Linked DNA regions of Homo sapiens: region 2 is linked to region 1. A link means that fine-mapping ties the variant in region 1 to the expression of a gene that starts in the linked region. Tissue or cell type: whole blood. Region 1 holds a variant in brackets; the other region holds the start of a gene. All regions are shown on one strand. Distances are from middle to middle.

Region 1 (7,778 bases):
TAGGCATGCACCACCACGCCCGGCTAATGTTTGTATTTTTAGTAGAGACAGGGTTTCACCATGTTGGCCAGGCTGGTCTCGAACTCCTGACCTCATGATCCACCCACCAAAGCCTCCCAGAGTGCTGGGATTACAGGCGTGAACCACCGCGCCCAACACCTGGCTAATTCTTTAAAATTATTATTTGTAGAGATGGGGTCTCCCTGTGTTGCCCAGGCTGGTCTTGAACTCCTGGGCTCAAGCGATCCTCCTGCCTTGGCCTGCCAAAGTTCCAGGATTACAGGCATGAGCCACTGCACCTGGCCTGGGCTTCAGTTTTTATGTGGAATGAGGATGATGGTATATATGATTTCTAAGGTTCTTCATATCACTGATATTTTAAGCTTTGGATATAGTTCTGATAAATGTGTCTTATACACCAATGGCATTACAAACAACTCTAGTGTCTTAAGTAAGAATAAAATAGGATTCACTAGATTACAAATTTTTGATGCCAAGCAAAGCAATTGTCTTCATCCCTACATTCCCAGCACCTAACATAGTGCCTGGCCCAGAGTAGAAAGGAGAGCAACGTGTGTTTTTGAATTCTTCTGCCTCCTAAAAACCAGGGCCTGTGCCTCCAAGGGGTAAGAGGCCCTCCCGTCACTGCACAGACTTCTTTACTGTCTCTATGAGTTCCTCTCCTGCCTCCCAAAATGCAGTCCCTTCCAGGGTCAGCCTCTGACTCATCATTTCCACACTTCTTCCTTGGTCAGTGCTCATTCCACAGGCTGCATCTATTTTCTCTATGCTAAAGGCTCCCAAATTTACATCTTCTCCAGAGCTCCTCGCTTTTTTCCAGCCTCTCACTCCAGTGACTTGACAAATCACTGAACGCTTGCTCACTGGCACTTGGAATCAGCAGTCCTTTCCTACTTCCTTACCAGCTCTCAAGATCTAAAATTATTCCTTTTCTTTTTACAGTGTGGTCTCAGTTTCACTGCTTATCAGCTGTATGATCTTGGACATGCTGCTTAACCTCCATGTGTCTCCCTTTCCTTAAGTGTAAAATAAAAATAGTACCTGCCACACAGGGCTCTGGTCAGGGTTCAGTGAGGTGACCCTGCGCACAGTCCGCAGTGCAGAGTAAACACTCAGTTAACTGTGGGGGGTCCTCCACCTCCTCCTGCTATTATTATTGTTGTTGTTATTATCATTATTATTATTTGAGACAGAGTCTCACTCTGTTGCCCAGGCTGAAGTGTAGTGGTGTGATCTCGGCTCACTCCAACCTCCACCTTCCAGGTTCAAGCAATTCTCCTGCCTCAGCCTCTAGAGAAGCTGAGATTACAGGCACCTGCCACCAAGCCCAGCTAATTTTTGTATTATGGCTGGGCATGGTGACTCATGCCTGTAATCCCAGTACTTTGGGAGGCCAAGCGGGGGGTGGATCACCTGAGGTCAGGAGTTCAAGACCAGCCTGGCCAACATGGTGAAATCCCGTCTCTACTAAAAATACAAAAATCAGCCAGGTGTGGTGGTAGGTGCCTGTAATCCCAGCTGTTTGGGAGGCTGAGGCATGAGAGTCGCTTGAACACGGGAGGCAGAGGTTCCAGTGAGCCGAGATTGCACCACTGCACTCCAGCCTGGGTGACAGAGTGAGACTCTGTCTCACAAAAAAAAGAAAGAAAGAAAAATTTGTATTTTTAGTAGAGACGGGGTTTTGCCATGTTGGCAAGGCTGGTCTCAAACTCCTGACTTCAGGTGGATTCGCCCACCTTGGCCCTCCAAAGTGCTGGGATTATAGGCGTAAGCCACCGCACCTGGCCATCCGCCTGCCATTATTATTATTAAAGGAGTTATTACCTGGTAAAATAATAACAGGAAAAGTGGAAGTGTCTCCATAGAATGAGGAGCAGGATAAGCACTTGAGTTTTTATTTTTCATTTTTTATACCGAATGTAACTAAAGCCTAAGCACTTGAGTTTTAAGTCAAAGAAAATCTAGGAAAAAGGGCAGGGCAGGAGGGGATTACTCATCTGTTGACAAGTGTAAATATGATTTCAGTATTACAAATGTCTCCTAAAACAGAAACAGAATTACCGGGAGGCCTGATGGGAGCACACACTAGGAACCAGTGGGGTGAGGGGCGTCTGTGTGGGCAGCTGCAGGGCAAACACCAGCAGTGTGAAAGCAGGGGTCCCAGGAGAGGGCCCGTGAGACTGGATCCAAATGGGAGTTGAGAATAAAGAGTGAAGAAGCCAGGCTTTACCCAAGAGCAGAACCACGGTACGATTCACTAAGAAGATACAGCATCACGTCCACAATATGCCTGCCAAAAATGCAGAGCCTGAATCTGACCATGGGGAAATTTGAGACAAACTGAAATTGAGGGGCAATCTACAAAATAACTGGCCTGCACTCCAACAATGTCAAGGTCATGAAAGACAAAGAAAGATTAGAGGGTTTTCCAGAATAAAAAAGAGACAAAAGAGACATGCGGACTAAATGCAGTACGTGATTCTGGACCGGATAGTGGACTATGAAACCCTGCTCTTTTTTTCTTTTGCTATAAAAGACACTACTGGGAAAACTGGCAAAGTTTGAATAAAGTTTGTAATTACAGAAGCATATTGTATCAGTGTTAATTTCCTGATTTTGATCATCCTGCTGTGGTTTTTAGGAGAATGCTTTGTTCCTAAGAAATGCACACTGAAGTATTTGGAGCAAAGGAGCATCATGTCTGCAACTTACCATTAAATGGTTTAGCAAGAAGTACAGATCTGCATCTCCATATCCATACATGTACACATACACACTGATACAGCAACTGCGGCAAAGTGTTAATAATGGGGGAGTCCGAGCAAGGGGTGGACGGAATTATTCTTGCAACTTTTCTGTAAATTGAAAATTTTTTAAAATAAGGAGTAACAGAGAGAGCGTGCACATGTGAGAGACACTTTCTCTCTTTTTTTTTTTTTCTTTTTTGAGATGGAGTCTCACTCTGTCACCGAGGCTGGAGTGCATTGGCACGATCTTGGCTGACTGAAACCTCCGCCTCCTGGGTTCAAGCAATTCTCCTGCCTCAGCCTCCTGAGTAGCTGGGACTATAGGCACACGCCACCACGCCCAGCTAATTTTTTGTATTTTTAGTAGAGACGGGGTTTCACCTTGTTGGCCAGGCTGGTCTTGATCTCTTGACCTCGTGATCTGCCTGCCTTGGCCTCCCAAAGTACTGGGCTTACAGGAGAGAGCCCCTGCACCCGGCCTGAGACACTGACTTTCACTACAGGTCAGCGAACATGCTTGAGCTGTCAAGAGGGGAATAGAAACATGGCAAGGGACAGGGCAGGCTATCCTGGCTGAGAGCGCAGAGCCCTGTGGCAGGAAGGAGCCACACCGCCCTGAAGCAGGTGAGACAGTTTTGAGAGACAGGGAGGAAGGTGCTTTTCCCACTCAGGTGTCCAAGGAATACAGATCAGGCTTCTAGGGACTCGCTGCATTGAGAGGGGAGAGGAAGCCTCAGCAGGCACTTTGGAGGTGAAAAAGGATCAAATTGGGAATGGAAGAAGAGAAACAAAGAAGTGAAGCTGAGCAGGAAAAGGAGGGAGATGAAGATGAGGAGAGTAAAGAGAGGGGAGAGGCAAGAGGAGAGGGAGGAGAGAGGGGACACATGACAGGGCTACCTGCCCTCCCAGCCTGCCCTCAGTGACCCAGGGCAAGTCCTTGATGCCCACACCCTCAGCCCTGCTGCCGTGGACAGCTCTGATTCCAGAGGGAGGGTCTGACCAGCTGAGCGCTCCAGGGAATCCCTTCCTACCCCATCCACTTCAGGCTCAGGAGAAGGGTCCCTCCACGAAGCCCTTTTAGTTTGTAGCCAAACCCCAAAAGCGTGTCTGGGACCAAGGTGTACCTCTAGAGCCCCACACCTGGACACAGGTGTGAGGAAGCCGAGCCGCCCGGGAGACACACTGGAGACACGTGGAAGTCTAAGGGCTGGCTCCATGGATTCATCCCTGTCCTCAGGAAGAGCTGGGGCACTGAAGGATGAGAAAGGTCATCCAAGGCTCAAGCCCTCCAGGGAGAGGCTCGGGCTGGGCCTCGGAGCATGGGAGGCCACGAATGTCTAAGCTGCAGCTCAGAAGACACCTGGGGCAGACCCCCTCGTTGCACAGGAGAGCCCTGGAGGACCTCCTGGATTGATTGCAGGATAACACTTAGGCTCCTGGGCTCCCGACCCTCCCAGAACTGCTGGGAATGGCACTGTGAAGTCACAGCCCC[C/G]CCTGGTGGCTCTAAACAGAAACCACATGTTCCCCAGAGCCCTCAGAACAGTTGGGTCTCCAAATCCCAGACTCAGGGATTTTACAGGTAGACAGAGGCCCTGCAAGAGCAAAGGGCCCATCTCTCGCCTTTTCCACATGAGGGAGCCCAGGAGAGGAGGATTCTTGCTCTAAGTTGTGATGCTAGACTTGTCACAGTTGTAAAGTTGTAAGACTCTTAGACTCTTGTGTGGTTAAAGCCAGTGTCTTTTGACACATCCTGGTCATTTAGTCCAGCACCCGGGCTTGGCTTGGGATGCTGGACAGGAGCAAGCTGACAAGCAGAATCATGACCTCTCCCCAGTCTGCCCGTACCTTTGTGGCCGCAGCCAACCTCCTTAAAGCTGGGCTTGAATCACAAGAGTGGCTGGCGTTAAGAGCCCCAGGCCAAGCTTCAGGGTTCTGGAGGCATGGGCTGGAATTCTGGGTGGCCACTTGCCTCTGTGTGCCACACACCCACCTCTCCATGATGTGAGGCTAATACCTCAGGTTGTTACAAAGATGAAGTGGCATCAGGAATGCAAAACACCCAGCCCACAGAAGGCACACTTTCCTTCTGTCACACTCCATGTTCTCTGCTCCTCTCAGCATCCACACAGCCCAGCTCACGGCAGGTGTATCCGTGGTTAGGGTCAGGGTCCTAACACGGGAAGGGACCACAGGAGGCTACCTGACGAGGCCTCAGCCCTCTGGCAGGCACTGGTGAGTCTAGAGAAGATGGGCTGGCAATTATCTTCAAGAATATGGCTGGGTCTCTTTAGAGAGGCATTTCTGTGTTATTGACTTACCCCTACACCCCCATTTGCCTAAACCCAGCTGTGATGGTTCCTTTACAACTCAAGTCCATCTCTGTTTCATCTGGTAAGTGAGCAGCACCTGCTAGCACCGCCTTCAGAGGAAACAATGTACATAGTCTCTTAGTTGCCCCTAAACCTAGCTTCTTTTCCTGGGGCTAAACAACTGTAATTATTCTTTATTCTCAACCTTTCTGTTTTCATCCTTCTCTTGTGAAAACTCTGGATTCACCCTGGTGTTTTTTGTTTGTTTGTTTTGAGATGGAGTCTTAGTCTGTCGCCCAGGCTGGAGTGCAATGGCACGATCTCAACTCACTGCAACCTCCGCCTCCTGGGTTCAGGCGATTCTCCTGCCTCAGCCTCCCGAGTAGCTGGGATTAAAGTGCCCGCAACCACATCTGGCTAATTTTCGTATTTTAGTAGAGATGGGGTTTCACCATGTTGGTCAGGCTGGTCTTGAACTCCTGACCTCAGGTGATCCACCCGTCTCGGCCTCCCGAAGCGTTGGGATTACGGGTGTGAGCCATCGCACCCAGCCTCACCACAGTTTTAGGAGTATTACAGCTGGGCGCGGTGGCTCACGCCTGTAATCCCAGCACTTTGGGAGGCTGAGGTGGGTGGATCACGAGGTCAGGAGATGGAGACCATCCTGGCTAAAACGGTGAAACCCCGTCTCTACTAAAAATACAAAAAAAAATTAGCTGGGTGTGGTGGTGGGTGCCTGTAGTCCCAGCTACTCAGGAGGCTGAGGCAGGAGAATGGTGTGAACCCAGGAGGCGGGGCTTGCAGTGAGCCGAGATCGCACCACTGCACTCCAGCCTGGGCGACAGAGCAAGACTCCGTCACAACAACGACAACAACAAAAAAAACAAACAAAAAACAAAAAAGAGTGTTACAAAATCAGCACAGGGGGTACACAGTAAATATTTGCTGAATGAACTATTGAAAACTGAACAAGATTCACTAACTTGAGACTAATTGATGCAAAATGTAAAGGGGTTTCTCCACTCCAGTGGCACTACTGTCATTTATCACAGCTGGTAAGCTGAGCTCTCCCGCGCCCCCTGTGATGGGTTGGTGCTGGCTCAGATGCAGCTCCAGCTCACCCTGATGAAGCCCCAGGCCTGGGTCCCCTAGGCCTTATTTCTCCGCTTTCTTTTAAACTCATTATGGTGCTGGCTTTGTTCCCTAAATAGATCATTTTTCCCTCCTATATTTCATCACAGTTCTGTATAGGTTTCTTTCCCCAGTTTATCGAAGTCACTCTGGACTTTACTTCTATCTCTCAGGGCAGCCATAATCCCAGGGATGAACTTCAGCACAGGCTGAAATATCAATGAACTGATTCTTCTATTCAAGAGACAGAATTAAAACAGGCATAAGGGCCAGAGCCCTTGAAAGATCACTTTAAATGTCCCTTTAGGTTAATGTCAAGTCACTGAAAATTGTCCCCTCACTACAACTCTCAAGTCAGTTATCCAACTGAGTGTTAATATAAAAACACTCAAAATTAAAAATAAATATGTCTAAAACAGAGGTGCAAGGGAAGACGTTTTAGTATAACTTAAAACTACTTTTTTATTTAAGACAAAGTCTTGTTCTGGTGTCCAGGCTGGAGTGCAGCAGTGTGATCTGGGCTCACTGCAGCCTCTGTCTCCTGCGTTCAAGCAATTCTCCTGCTTCAGCCTCCTGAGTAGCTGGGATTACAGGCACCCACCACCACACCCAGCCAATTTTTGTATTTTTAGTAGAGACGGGGTTTCACCATGTTGGCCAGGCTGGTCTCGAACTCCTCACCTCAGGTGATCCACCCGCCTCGGCTTCCCAAAGTGCTGGAATTACAGGCGTAAGCCACCATGCCTGGCTTAAAACTACTTTTTGATAGTCAACCTCAATAGTCATCAAAGGAATATAAAGTAAACTGCAAAATGCCAAAATCTTTGGACTACCAACCTGACAAGTATATGTATACATTCAAAGTCATTCATGCCTAGTATTGGAAGGGTGAGGGATGGGAAGGAAAGCAGGCCACATTTCTGGAGAGCTACTGAGTCACAGGAACGAGAAGCTTTAAAGACAAATATTCTGAACCTACAATCTCACTTCTGGAAAGGTACCCTAAGGAGACGATTAGGGACGCTCACAGTCATGTGGCTTTATAGATCCCCATCATGGCACAGTCCATGTAGCAGAAGACTGGGGTCCAGCACCCACATGGCAGGGGACTGCCCAAAGAAATGATAGACCCGCCTTATACTGGGAGACCATGGCAGCCTTGAACAGGCTGCAGAGCTGTGTGTGCTGGCTTGGAAAGAGGTTTCTAAGTGAAACAGCAAGATGTGTATACCACAGTGTCCACTATTGTCCATTTTTTGTAAAAGCATATTTTTATATATGTCCTATAAAGGAAAAAAAAAAAGTCTGGAAAGAGCTGGGTGCAATGGCTCATGCCTGTAATCCCAGCACTTTGGGAGACCAAGGCAGGTGGATCTCCTGAGGTTTGGAGTTCAAGACCAGCCTGGCCAACATGACAAAACCCCGTCTCTACTGAAAATACAAAAATTAGCTGGGGGTGGTGGCACCTGCCTGCAGCCCCAGTTCTCAGGAGGCTGAGGCAGGAGAATTGCTTGAATCCGGGAGACAGAGATTGCAGTGAGCTGAGATCGCACCAGTGCACTCCAGCCTG
Region 2 (6,114 bases), 24 kb after region 1:
ATCTGCCTTAATTGAGACCCCACCTGACTTAAAATTTCAGAATTACACTCTGCGTGTGATTGATTTCCTTTTTCCCTCTAGCACCTATAATTTTCTGTTACATCATCACACCCAACAGAGGAGAGAGAAAAAGATGGCACATGAAAAGGATTAGGGGATCAGCCTCAAAGAAATGAAAATCTGACCCAAACAAACACAGAAGGAGGCAAAGGAAGCAGGCTGACATTTGGGGAGGTGAAAAAAACAAGACCCCAGCGATCCTCATGTTTTATCTTACCTTTTCAAATCAGTCCCTGTGATCTGCTCCCGGTGCAAAACTCCTTTCTGATTTCCACCATCAGCTACACCCCACCTCTCCCCTAAGCAGGGTCTTTGAAGTCCAGTCTCCCTAAGCTCTTGGCAGACACCAACATGGGAGGGGCCCTGCAGCATCTGTCACACAGCTCCTCACCCTTAAGTGTCAGCGACAACAGGAACTGCTGAGCACAGTCACGCTACCTCCACTCTGTAAGCACCTGAGAAACAATGCTGACAGGTCCCTGAAGGGCTTCCACACAAAGGTGTGTAAGAAAGAGACACACTGCTAGACACACGCACATGCCCTCCAAGCAGGGGGTAAGAAGTGCGTCATGAAGAGCATGCACGGGAGAGAGGAGCCGGGAGGCAGGCTGCCTGCAGTCCTCACAGCTGGTCACATAAGCACATGGGCAGTTACAGCTGGGCCTGGGTCCATGAGGACGTTGCTGGCCAGTTCTGGTTTATGACTGTCACACAAAGAAATAGCAGACCAATCAATTGATGTTTATTTATTGAATGTCGCCTTTTTCCAAAGAGGATTTACGGCGTGAAAGAATACAGGTGGGTTTGTGTGAGTGTCTGAGCCAACACTGATGGACATGTTTTTCTGTGCACACCACCTAGGGCCTTTCTTCATCCCTAGACTGACTGTGGAGAAAATGTACCCTCCCTGAACTGAGCCTTCCCATGACATGCACAGGAATGTGCGAGGGACCACTTTCCCCTCCCAGCCATTTACCCTGGGATTCTGCCACTCTGAGTCCCAGGTTCATGGCCCACCTCAGGCAAAGACTGTTCCTCCCTTCCCATAGAGACCCTTCACTAGTTTCTCTTTCACTCACACACATCTGGACACAAAGTGCCTGTGTCTTCATGGGCCAGCTGCGTGGGAAATGTCCTGTGCACACTCCTACATGCACATACACACTCCTACATGCACATACACACATCATACTAGGACGCTATTTTGACGTGTGCATCAGAAGTGAAGTTACAGCTGGCTGATGAGTGTGCACAGGCACACATGCACACTTCCTCATCCGGGTATTCCTCCAGCAGCACCAGTCACACCTTAACATACACCGTAACACACTCCCTCTGCTCTGCCAGTGTGTGCAGGAGCTGCTCAGCTATGACCTTATTTGACCCACCTTTGCAGACAGCCCTTCTCCCCGCCATTTCCATAGTGGCCGCCTGCCTCATGGGCTGTCACACCCCATGCCCACCTCCCTACACACCCCCTCCACTAAATCCCCGTCTGCGCTGGAAGCCATCAGGAGGCCCGTCTCTTTCTCTCTCAGGCAGACACATCCCTTTCACACCTGTGCCACACCCCCAGCCCGCCACGCACCCACACAGCCCGCCGCCCGGCGTGGCTGCTGAATGGAAACCACACATCTGAGTCTCACACCTCCCTCGTGTGTGAGCTGCGTGGGAGCCTCCCGCCGTGTGCTGTCACGGGCCTTCCGTGGCTGTACGCCCGTTTTTGTCAGCTCCTAATAGAGTCGCCCAGAACAGGAGAGAATACCCATTCACCGTGACACACTCACACTCCCTCCCGGCAACGCCACGCGTAAACAGCCACCCGCGCCTCAGCGTACCCGCCCCACACTCCGCAGGCGGCCCCTGGGACCTTCACAATGCGGCCTCCTCCCCGCGTGGCTGTCACACACGCCTCTTCCCCCGAGTGCGCAGGCACACAATGCACTCGCACACACACAAGCACACGCACACACATGCACACCCACACGTGCGCGCCCCCCCGGCCCGCGAGGCAGCAGCCTGCGCACCTGCCCCTGAGAGCCGCGGCGTGGGGGCCACGGTGCTGTGTCCCAGCTTCACCGCCGCGCCTTTGTCGGGGGTCGCCCGGCACGCCAGGCGCCCGCCGCGGCCCCCACGCACCCACTCCTCGTGCGCGTGTGTCGGGGCGGCGCCGCGGCCCGGCCGGGACACGCGCGCTCCCGGCGGCGCCGCACTCTGGCCCCTTTGTTGGCGGCCCGGGGAGCTGTCCAGCACCGCGCCCACGCCGCCGCCCGCCCTCCCGCGCTCGGGCCCGGAGCGCACTCACCCCCAACCAGCAGAAGCAGCAGCGGCGAAAGCAGCGGCGGCAGCCGGGCGGCCCGCAGCAGCCGGCCCATGGTGTAGCCGTCGCCGCCTGCAGCCGCAGCGGCGCGGCGCCCGGGCCCGCGTCAGGGGCCGCGCGGGCGGCGGCGGCGGCGCGCGCCCGCCCCATTGGTCCGCATGGCCGTCACTCACGCCCGGCCCCGCCCGGCCGCGTGCCGCGGGCGCGCCCCCGCGGAGACGAAGCGGACGCGCGGGCGGCCGTCCCTCCGCCCGTCCCCCCCGCCAGGCCGGCCAATCAGCACCGCCGAGGCTCGGGGGCTTGGCCCGGCCGCCCGCAGACCTGGGCCTCGCACCTCGCGCCCGGATGCCGCTCTCTCCCCGCGCGGTCACCCGTTCCCTGGGAAGCAGAGTGGGCAGCTGTGGCAGATGGGACTGATGGGACGAGGACGACGCGTGGAAATGACTGTGAGGGTGGACAGAGGCCTGGGGTAAGGAAAGACTTCTCAGGGTACTTAGATTGGGTGAGCCCTGAAGGAGAACCTGAGAGCAAAGAACTGGACTTTAGAGCTAGGCAGTCTGGCTCAGGATCAGATTGGTTCCGAGACCTTGAGTAAATCTCTTCTCACCTCTGGGCCCCACTTGCCCCATTTGCTAACTGGGGGGTTTTAGATTATGAGAGAGGTGCTGACTTCTCTAACATGTGCTCCCTTTTGGCAACTGAAGATCCTTAATATGCCAAGCACTGTAGTGGTAAATAAAACAGGCACATCCCTCGTCCTCATAGTTTAGGCTCGTAGAGAAAACAGACTGAAAAACAAAATGGACACACATATGGTCCTATGATTGCAATTGGTAGTCGGTCTGTTAAGGAGTATAAGGGGCTAGGAGACAGCACAGAGGGGAACCTTATGCTTGCCTTCCTGAAGAAACAGCATTTAAGGTAAGCTGGCTGGCATCTGGAAGGATGAGTGGGTATTAGGTAGGAGATTGGGTTTGGGAGAGAACTTACAAGGCAGAGGGAAAAGCTCACTGATAGAGTTCCTGAGTTAGAAAGAAGCTCAGCCTCTTTTAGGGAGAGAAAAACCCCGACTACCCTTTTAGAAGTACTGCAGCTTAAATATACAGCAACCACAATTTTGTGGAATGTTACTTTATATATACCATATTAGGAAAACACTTCTTTAAAATAACAAATCGTTATTTGAATATGCTTTTTCAAAGTATATCCCCACCCCCCTATGCAGGGGTATAGCATCAGACATTGGAGATAATCTCACGGGACTCTTCCAGACTAAATATTAATACTTAGGAGAAATAGGAGTTGGGGTGGAGGAGCATAGGGAAGAAATGGGTTCCAGACAAAAGAAAGAACATGAGCAAAATGTAGCACCTTTTATTTGGTGGGTGTTAGGGGTACTAGAAAAGTGGCTGTCAGCTGGGCTTGGAAAAGAGAAATCCAGGGTGTGTCTAGACCCAGCTTCCCTCTTCTTTCCTCCTCTGAGGATGAAAGGAGCATCCCTTTGGTTTTTTGTTGTGTTTTGTTTTGTTTTTCTGTTACAAGAAACAAAGATCTTAGAAGCAAACAAGAAATGGAAGGAAACGTCCTCAATTCCATTAAGGGTATCTCCCAGAAACCTTTATTATCATACTTAATGGTGAAACCATACTTAATGATGAAACATTAGAAACATTCTCTTTTAAGTGAATGGAACAAAATAATCCTCACTACCACCACAATGATTGAATATTCTATAAGAGACACTGCAACAAGGCCTGATAGAAGAAATGGGATGAAAGTATTGGGGGAAAACTCATTATTTGCAGGTTTATCTAGAAAATGCAAGATCATCAGTTGGCAAAATAATTGAAAACCAATGAGTTCAGCAAGATTGCTGAATAAAAGATAACGTACAGAAATCAATAGCTTTTCTGTGTATCCTCAATAACCACTTAGAAAATGTAGTAGGAGAAAAGATCGCAATCACAGCAACAATTATTAAAAACTGGAATAAACCAAACCAGATATGTAAGCTCCAAATGAAGAAAACTCTAAAGCTGCCAGGGGTGGTGGCATGTGCCTGGAATCCCAGCTACTTGGGGGAGACTGAGGTAGGAGGATGGATCACTTGAGGCTAGGGGTTTGAGACCAGCTTTGGCAATATGGTGAGACCCCCATCTCTAAGTAAATCAATTAGCCAGGTGTAGTGGTGCATGTCTGTAGTCCTACCTACTTGGGAGGCTGAGGTGGGAGGATCACTTGAGCCCAAGAGTTCAAGATCAACCTGGGCAACAAAGCAAGATGCCATCTCTATGAAAAATTTTAAAATTAGCCAGGCATGGTGGCACACACCTGTAATCCTAGCTACATAGGAAGCTGAGGTGGGAGGATTGCTTGAGCACAGGAGTTCAAGGCTGCAGTGAGCTATGATTGTGCCACTGCACTTCAGCCTGGGTGACAGAGTGAGACTCTGTCTCAAAAAAAGAAACAAAAATTTAAGTGAAGGCAATCCTCAGAATGGGAAGAAACATTTGGAAATCATGTATCTAGAATATACAAAGAATTTTTACAAGTCAGTAATAAAGACAACTCAATGTTTTAAAATGGACAAAGATCTGAATATACATTCCTCCAAATGTCAATAAGCACATGAAAACATGCTCAGCCTCATTAACCATCAGATAAATGCAAATCAAAACCACAATAAGAAACCACTTCTCAGGCTGGGTACGGTGGTTCACGCCTGTAATCCCAGCACTTTAGGAGGCCGGGCTGGGTGGATAGCTTGAGGTCAGGAGTTGGATACCAGCCTTGCTAACATGGCAAAACCCTGTCTCTACTAAAAATACAAAAATTACTCTGGCATGGTGGTGCATGACTGTAATCCCAGCTACACAGGAGGCTGAGGCATGAGAATTGCTTGAACCCAGGGGGTGGAGGTTGCAGTGAGCTGAGATCACACCACTGCACTCCAGCCTGGGTGACAAAGCGAGACTCTGTCTCAAAAAAAAGGAAACCACTTTGCGTCTCACTAAGGTGGGTGGCTAGAATTAAAAAGAGAGACCACGTGTTATATAGGATATGGAGAAAGAACCCTCCTCGTACACTGCTGATGGGAATGTAAAATGGTGCAGCTGCTTTGGACATAGGCAGTTTCTCAAAAGATTAAGCATAGAGTTACCATATGACTTCATAATTCCACTCCTAATACATACCTAAGAGCATAGAAAACATATGTCTAGTCAAATACATTACAGGAATGTTCATAGCAGCATTAGTCATAATAATCAAAAGGTGGAAACAACCCAAATTCTCATCAACTGATGAATGCATAAATAAAATGTAGCATACCCATACAATGGCATGTTGGTCAGCAATACAAAGAAAGTACTGACACATGCTACAACGTGGATGAACCTTGAAAACATTATTCTAAGTGAAAGAAGCCCATCACAAAAGACTACATATTATATGATTCAATTTTTATGAAATGTCCAGAATAGGTAAATCTTTAGCAATAGAAAGCAGATTAGTGGTTGCCTAGGGCTGGTGGGGAAGGAAGAGGAGTAACTGCTAATGGGTATGTTTTTTGGGGGAAGGGAGTGATGAAAATGTTTTAAAAGTGTGATAATTTGCACAACTGCAAATATGCTAAAACGATTGAATTGTACATTTTTTAATTAATTAATTAGTTTATTTTTGAGACAGAGTCTCGCTCTGTTGCCCAGGCTGGAGTGCAGTGGTGTGATCTTGGC

What was found. PIP is the estimated chance that this variant, and not a neighbour inherited with it, causes the effect.
Region 2: PODXL2 starts here. The variant in region 1 is fine-mapped to the expression of PODXL2 in whole blood (TOPMed, PIP above 0.99).

The regions. Positions count from the first base shown.
Region 1 is chr3:127,648,835-127,656,612 of GRCh38, reverse strand. The region is part of intron 2 of PODXL2 (podocalyxin like 2); the gene reads right to left. Among named protein-coding and RNA genes, the nearest start is that of ABTB1, 20 kb to the left of the region's middle. The variant C/G (reference allele first, on the strand shown) is at 4,261.
Region 2 is chr3:127,625,541-127,631,654 of GRCh38, reverse strand. It overlaps PODXL2 (podocalyxin like 2), which reads right to left and starts at 2,470. Exons shown (of 8, transcript NM_015720.4): 1 at 2,366-2,470. The coding sequence starts at 2,435. It overlaps LOC107986126 (a long non-coding RNA gene), which reads left to right and starts at 2,692. Exons shown (of 2, transcript XR_001740892.2): 1 at 2,692-2,849. RefSeq lists an enhancer at 1,768-1,827 and silencers at 2,228-2,357, 2,468-2,537.